2 linked regions of the Homo sapiens genome follow. The protein of the gene in region 2 purifies or fractionates together with the protein of the main gene of each other region. This does not show direct contact. Each region holds a gene or a part of one and is shown on either strand. Other genes may lie near its edges.

The links.
Region 1: the proteins of PARP6 (region 2) and ANKMY2 fractionate together in Homo sapiens (co-fractionation; one large-scale study listed by BioGRID). This does not show direct contact.

The regions. Positions count from the first base shown.
Region 1 is NC_000007.14:16,610,991-16,614,813, forward strand, and holds part of ANKMY2 (ankyrin repeat and MYND domain-containing protein 2), read right to left. Parts: intron 2,283-3,823; exon of another isoform or gene 2,149-2,282; intron 1-2,148. UniProt on the Homo sapiens protein: May be involved in the trafficking of signaling proteins to the cilia.
Region 2 is NC_000015.10:72,259,019-72,262,841, reverse strand, and holds part of PARP6 (protein mono-ADP-ribosyltransferase PARP6), read left to right. Parts: intron 1-1,134; coding exon 1,135-1,284; intron 1,285-2,153; coding exon 2,154-2,364; intron 2,365-3,180; coding exon 3,181-3,234; intron 3,235-3,823. UniProt on the Homo sapiens protein: Mono-ADP-ribosyltransferase that mediates mono-ADP-ribosylation of target proteins.

The sequences.
Region 1 (3,823 bases), on a different chromosome or scaffold from region 2:
GTGATCTTCCATCTACCTACACCACAGTGCCAGTATGCCATTCAAGAGCACATGATTTTACAGTCTCTGTTAAATTCACTTTTACTAAAGATAAACATGACAAATTTGTACATTTTACATAAAGAATCAAATCATTGAGCAATAACCACTTTTAGTTAACATTACTCAGCTCTAGAATTTCATGGCTAGGAGAACTACAATTCTCATTAATTCTTATTAAGCACAAGAAAATGAGATTTTTTCAGAATGAAGTCTAAAAATGAAATATGCTTTACTTTCCAATTAACTATATTTCTCTATGGAAATTTTCCTGAAGATGCTTCCAATCATCTACAGTAATGAGAACAGGTCAAAGAGGAAGCCATAAATAACTTTAAAGGGGAAATATTAGAATGATCAAATCTTACACGTTATGAGTCCCACATTTCCTATGTATGCACAGATTATGCTCAAATTTAGTGTAATATGGAGTATTTTTGTATTAGCTTTGTTGTAGGGTAGATTATTTGAAGTAGGTCTGCAAAGGACTGCTGTAAATATCCATGGTGGCATAACAGTAATGTAAACATGAATGTGAGAGTGGCAGGAGGCAGCCAAATGCCTAGAGAGAATAGGGGTGGGTCCTTGGTGAAGCCCCACTTCCAAGCCAAAGACAGTTTAAAGCCTGAAAGCCAAGCTACAAATTAAATCCTTGAACCGGATTGAGAACTTGTCTTCCTGTTTGACTCAATTTCTTCTGATTGATCCCCACCCTTCACCTATTTTACATACACCTACCCTTTCCTAACTGGTTTTCTACACTGTTGTGCCCACCATTGAGTGGTGTCTTCACTTTAACCTTTTTTACATACTCACAAACCAATCAGCATGCACTCCCCTTTCTGAGTCCATAAAAGGACCTGGACCCAGGCACATGGGGCACTTTCCCGCCTTTGGGTAGGGGAACCACCCTGCACTGCGTCTCCTATTTGCTGAGAGCTTTCCTTTCACTTAATAAATTTTACTCCACTCACTCTCCAGTGTCCACCTGTCTAATTCTTCCTGGTTGTAAGACAAGAACTTGGATCTAGCTGAACTAAGGAGCACAAAGACCACAACAAATGTAACAGGGACACAACTGTATGCACAGAGCAGACAGCCAGTCAGTACTTGCTAACCTACCTGTTACAGCTAAATCAATATCCCAGGGACTATACATGTCAGGGAACAACAGGTAGATTTCCTGAATTAGATTCTTTTCTTTAGGCATGAAAAAAGATCATCTATTAGTAAAGCCCATAGCTAGCCCTCTAATTAGAAATTTAACACAGATTAAATGTCCTTGTAAAATTAAACGAATTTCACTTTTTGACATTTATTAGATTTATACACAATCTAGTGTTTTACAAAAATCCAGCACTTAATAATAAGTTATTAGACTTAATGAAGTAAGTATAATCAGAATCCTTATTGATAACTCTCTCTACCAAAACATACTTTGACAATTTATGGTGGAGAAGAAAAGACTCATTAATTATCTGTTTATACTTCTGCTAATTGTAATCATTTAAAGTTGTTTGATCAGTATTTTTATATATGGCATTTATAATCAACTATAGAATCTTAAACTTACAAGTGAGAATTCTTTCAAAAAATTTCAAACAGAGCCCAGATTAATAATTTTTTGTTTGGAGACATCAGACCTTATCTATGTTTTAATACACAGCACAAATATACACCAAGAAAAATGACAAATAACCACATCATTAACATGCGCTTATTGAAACAACTACATAGCTGCACACAAAAGAATAATATTTGTACTTGTTTCCTTCCTTAATCTCTGCAGCATTATGAAGTAATATATTATAAAGGAAATCCTTTTTATTAATTAATGAGGAGGAGCAAATAAATATATTTCTATTGGCATTAAAAACTAGATAAATTTTTACCATTCAAAGGATTGCTACCTGAGAATATGTTTATGTAGTGGCATTTTGAATTCTTTTTATTTTTTAAATCCTATTTTTAAAAACTGCTAAATCTACAATACTGGGCTTGAAAATCACAATAATCAAAGACATGATTGTTCTGTGCACATCTGCCTCCTGTACACTTAGAGACCCTGCTCTGCTGACATTTTTTTCTGTGATTTTGTTTTTCTCCTAGATAACCTTCATATTCTGGGCATCAGCACAATCCTCCAAATCCCTTTTGAAAACAAATGCATCCTTATTGCTACGGCAGCCACTTAATCTAGACACAAATACAGCTATATTAGGTGCACTGTAATGAAAAGTGAGGTGTGTATTGGGGAGAATTTCCGAGGTTGTTTTAAAAGCTGTTTAACATTACACAGTGGTTATTAGTTTTTAAATAATACTCCATAGGAAATGCCATGCTAGCTTAAAAAGGGGGTAGAGCAATAAAAATGGGCCACAGTAACAAAAGCAACTGGGTGGCTTTTAGATCCCAAGGGTGGATAAAAGAAAAGGTTTCGAGCGAATAGATTGTTTATACCTACAAAAAGCAAGGTCTGGTCTGGAGGAAGGTATATAATAGGATAGCCCCCTTCATACTCCAAAAAATATTATGTAGTCTATTTCAGACTATATACCTTTACAAATTATTGTCTGCATAATTATGCCCTCAATCTAATTTACTTAAAATATATACCTTCAAAGATAACTGAAGGTAGAGTATTAATAATTATTAGGACATTTAACCCTGAAAGACTGGGTTCCAAGTAAACATAAAAAATTATTCCATAAGCCTGGCCAACATGGAGAAACCCCATCTCTACCCAAAATACAAAAATTAGCCAGGCGTGGTGGTGGGCACCTGTAATCCCAGCTACTCAGGAGGCTGAGGCAGGAGAATCGCTTTAACCTGGAAGGCCGAGATCTGTACCACTGCACTCCAGGCTGGGCGACAGAGCAAGACCCTATCTCAAAAAAAAAAAAAAAAAAAATTCCACAAACCCTTACTGCAATCTGAAGAGGCAGAAACATAGATATGAAAGACAGTGAATCAGAAAAGTACAGGGAACTTCTTCAAGTCAGTCTAAGCCAGAATATCCTGTATTGCTCAGGCAGTGGAGGAACAAGAGTCTTACAGAACCACACACATTCTCTACATTGAGAAATACTGTACCCTGACAGAAACCTGTCTCCCCATCCCAGCCAGCCCATGCCTGAGAGAGTGCCATGGACAGAGGTCAATGCTTCTCTTGGGAGTTCTCTTTTCCCTAGGTATGCTGGGAGGGAGAGAAACAGTAACACAGAAGAAAATACATATTTTTTAAAGGTTAAATTCTAAGCCCTCTGTAATCTCCACTAGAAACATGAGTATGCAGTTCACAACTGAATTTGCCCACTTAGTATCACAAGTGTTGCCTCTGGCAGTTCTTCCAGAATATTAAGAAAAACTCTGAGTTTTCTAAAATAAAAATAGCAGATTCCACTCTTCTGTCTGATGGGAAAGGTATCTACTAGTTTGTCATCTCTCTTAAGGGCCTAGAAAATTAATTTGGGTGGAGGAACACACAATGAGTAAATTTGGTTTGTTTCTCAACCTTCAAGTACTCAAGAAAGATGCACAGGGATGCATCAACAAAGTAATAAGATTATACACATTTTGGATCTTATATCTTTGAGTGAGTGTCAGTCTTCAGAAGAGTCACCTTATAAGAACTGTCCACTCATTTTCATGATGCTCAGCAGACTCCACAGATTCTTCTTTCGTAATAAACTTCTGGGGAAATCTATTTTACTACATGATAGTAACGCCTTATGTTAAGGAAGAACCTTAACTTTTGACACAACTTAGTATCTTGCTCACTTAA
Region 2 (3,823 bases):
CAGCAGGGTAGGCAGAGGAAGAAGAAACACTGCAGGTAGGTCAGAGTAGAATAGGAAGATAATGGTGGCACAGAAGACAAAGGAGGGCAGGTTCTGCAAGGAGGGCCAGATGCCAGAGAAGATAAGAGAAGAACCTGGGAGTTTCCATCGGATTTAGCATCAGGATGAGAACAATTATAGTGGTGAAGGTAGGAACCAGAATACAGAAAGTTTGGAGGTGAGTGGTTGGCAACAACATAGAAACAATGAGTATGGGTTGAGAAATTTGTATGGGGATGGGAAGGCAACAGGGAGAGGTTAACTAGACTAAGGTGCAGAAAGTTGACATCTTTTGTTGACTTTGGGAAAGGAACTGACAGGAAAGGGGAATGATTGACACATCATGGTCCCTAAAAAGGCAATCAAAGGATTGATCTTAGGTAGAAGGGTCACCTTACCTCCAGAGAATGGAGGGATCAAGGTAGGGTGGAAATGTAAGTAGATTTTATAGTAGGGTTGGAAAATTAAGGGAACTGATACCTGATGGCTTAAGAAGGAAGAGAGGTTTTTGGTTGTAGATGAAGTTAGTAACTTAAAGAAGGTAATAAGGATTTAGAACAATACCTTAGAGTAATGCTAGAGAGAACTGATCAAGGACAAGTGAAAGGATTGACAAATCTAGCTAAGGGCGCAGCTCAAATTGGAAACCATAAATTTGAGAATATAATTTTTCTCCTAACAATGTCAGTACCCCTTATGTCCCTACTCCCTTTCTTCATGACTCACAAGGAACAAAGTGGTACTCACCTCCATCCTACCACTTCTGTTTCCCTGTCAACAGTATAGTCATTCTTGGCAATAGATTTCAAAGTTTGCAGCCTTTGAAGGCTCACCTTTGAAATCTCACTCTAAAGGCAACGCATCTCTGAATTTTTCTGGCCATTAGGCTAGGTGCCCTCTAGGGTGAAGGGGTGCTCTGGGATGGTGATTTTTTTATTTACTAAGGTCATTTAAAGGGGTCTTCAGATACACATTCCCCTACCACAACTAGCTTTGCAGTCCTTGGGTCTGAATTTTAGATTATTTGTCTCTCTTTAGTCCTTATTTCTTGACCCTGCCTCATCTTGCCTAAGCTCATTCTTTTTGATCCCTCAGGATCCTGGGTATGTTTACATCCCAACAATGGAAACATCTGAGCAATGATTTCTTGAAGACCCAGCAGGAGAAGAGGCACAGTTGGTTCAAGGCAAGTGGTACCATCAAGAAGTTCCGAGCTGGCCTCAGCATCTTTTCACCCATCCCCAAGTAAGTGCTCCCTAAAGCTGATCATCTGTAAACACCTTGTGATAGCCCCCACCCCCACCTTCTTGATTACATAAATGTTTCTATCCCCTCTCTTCCCTGAATTCTGTCTCTTTAACTACTGACACCACTCACATGGTCCTGTTCCCTATGTGTCCTTACCTTTCTACTCCTTATCCAAGGTTAATACCTAATCCTTTATGTAAAACAGAATACCTAGCTCGTGATATGTATTTGGAGAAATGTATGCTGAATCTTCCATCTTTCTGTTCTTTTGTCCTGATCCGTTTCCCCATCCTAAGAAGAAAGTGTCAGAGAACAGGCAGTAATTCCTTGCTAGGTTCTGGAAATAAATATTGCTCCATTCTTTGACCCCAGGTCTACATTTTCCCCCTGTGGTGTCTTCTGATATTCCCAAAGGCAGACACAAACCCAGATTTGTAGCTTCCCAGGAATCATTGTTGACAGTCAGATAGTCAATATTACGCCCTTTGGGATGCAACTACTTCTTGCCTAGCGCAGTGTTTAACAATCTCTCTCTCTATTTTTTTTTCTCTCTCTCAGAAAAACAGGCAGCCTTTCCAAGGGATTATTCCATACTTGGCTTAGAAACATAATAACCTATCCTCTGCCTCTGCCCACCCTCAGTGTCCCAATGTGAAGAACCCACAGATGATGACATAAAAATTTTAATTCAGATGTGTGATCTACTTGTTTTAATAGTGTTTAAGATACAATGCAACTTTCCTCAGATATGAGTTTGTCTTTCTTTAGTTTAGAACTTTTGGCTTAGGGCTCACTTATCTCCAGTCCCCTCCAGGGATCCTATGAAATCCCCAGTTTTATCACTTCTCTTTGCTCTCTCTCTGCAGGTCTCCCAGTTTCCCTATCATACAGGACTCCATGCTGAAAGGCAAACTAGGTGTACCAGAGCTTCGGGTTGGGCGCCTCATGAACCGTTCCATCTCCTGTACCATGAAGAACCCCAAAGTGGAAGTGTTTGGCTACCCTCCCAGCCCCCAGGCAGGTCTCCTGTGCCCTCAGCACGTGGGCCTCCCTCCCCCAGCACGGACCTCTCCTTTGGTACATGGGCTGGGGAGGGTTTGACTTGGCTATCAGGAGGGTGGGAGTGGAACTGTGGGAGTGTAGTTTCTCAAAATGGGGTGGGGATATGGTTGTCTAGGCATCATAAATCAAACCTAGGTATGTACCATGAGTGAGTAGAATGGAACACTTCTTTTTTTTTGAGACAGGGTCTCACTCTGTCATCCAGGCTGGAGGGCAGTGGCGATCTCTGCTCATTGCAGTTGCTGCCTCCCAGGCTCATGATCCTCCTACCTCAGCCTGTCAAGTAGCTGGGACTATAGGCACATGCCACGACTGGCTAATTTTTCATATTTTTGTAGAGACGGGCTTTTGCCATGTTGGCCAGGGTAGTCTTGAACTCCTGAGCTCAAGTGATCCGCCTTCCTTCACCTCCCAAAGTGCTGGGATTACAGGCACGAGCCACCACTCCCAGCTGGAAAACATTTTTTAACAGTAGAAAACTTATGTCTAAATTGTCTAGCGAGCTTCTCTGATAGGCCATGAAGCACAGAGTCTGGAGATGGGAATCTCAAGGAGAAGTCATGTATGATTTTATTAGTTTGTGAGTAGGACTGTAGTTAACTGTAGCTGCTGTACTAACCTATTCCATCTACTTTGAAGGAGGGTTAAGGACAGGTGAGCCCCTTTCCAGAACCTTTGGCAAAAATGTCTAAAAGTCTCCTTTCTAGCTTCGGGATTCTGAGCTAGGGTTTAGCTGCTTTAGGAGAGTCCTAGGTGATAGGCAAGAGTCAGGTCTGTCTAGGCCCCAGCTTCATAGGAGGTTCACGGGGTCTGTCTTTTTACTCTCACCAGGTCAGTGGTCACTGCAAGAACATTCCCACTCTGGAGTATGGATTCCTCGTTCAGGTAATCAAGTCAAAATTGTCACTCCGAAGCCCTTCCCTGTTGTCTGACCCATTTGGTCTCCTAACACCTCCCAGCTCCTCAATCAAATACTTTCTGAATTGCTTTGCTTCCAGAACTAATGGTAGAAGGAAAGAAGGCATTGTTCCCATCTTCAAGAAACTGACAGCATTACTAGAAAGACAATACTTACCACTTATGATCAAGTGCCAATGAGGCACCGCCAATTTTAAGTGTATGAGTGTCGAGACTCATATGACATGAGATGAGAATGAGATTGACACTAATTTCCTTAATGATTCCCAATAGCCCTTGCTCAAATGATCTTTAGTATTCTTCACAGACCCCCTTTCACTGCTCAGCTACTACTGGTCATTTGCTTTTTAAAATCTCTTTATTCCCTGGGCATGCTTTCACTTTTGCATCTCTGTTAACCTTTGTTCATGTAATTCTTCCTATCTTCCTCTTGCTATCAAGAGTCAGATGGCACCTTTTCCATAAAATTGCCATTACTCCAATGCATTAACTAGATGTGATGTCTCCCCTCACTGAACTGTTACGATTTGTTTTTGTTTCATATGGCACCTGTGTG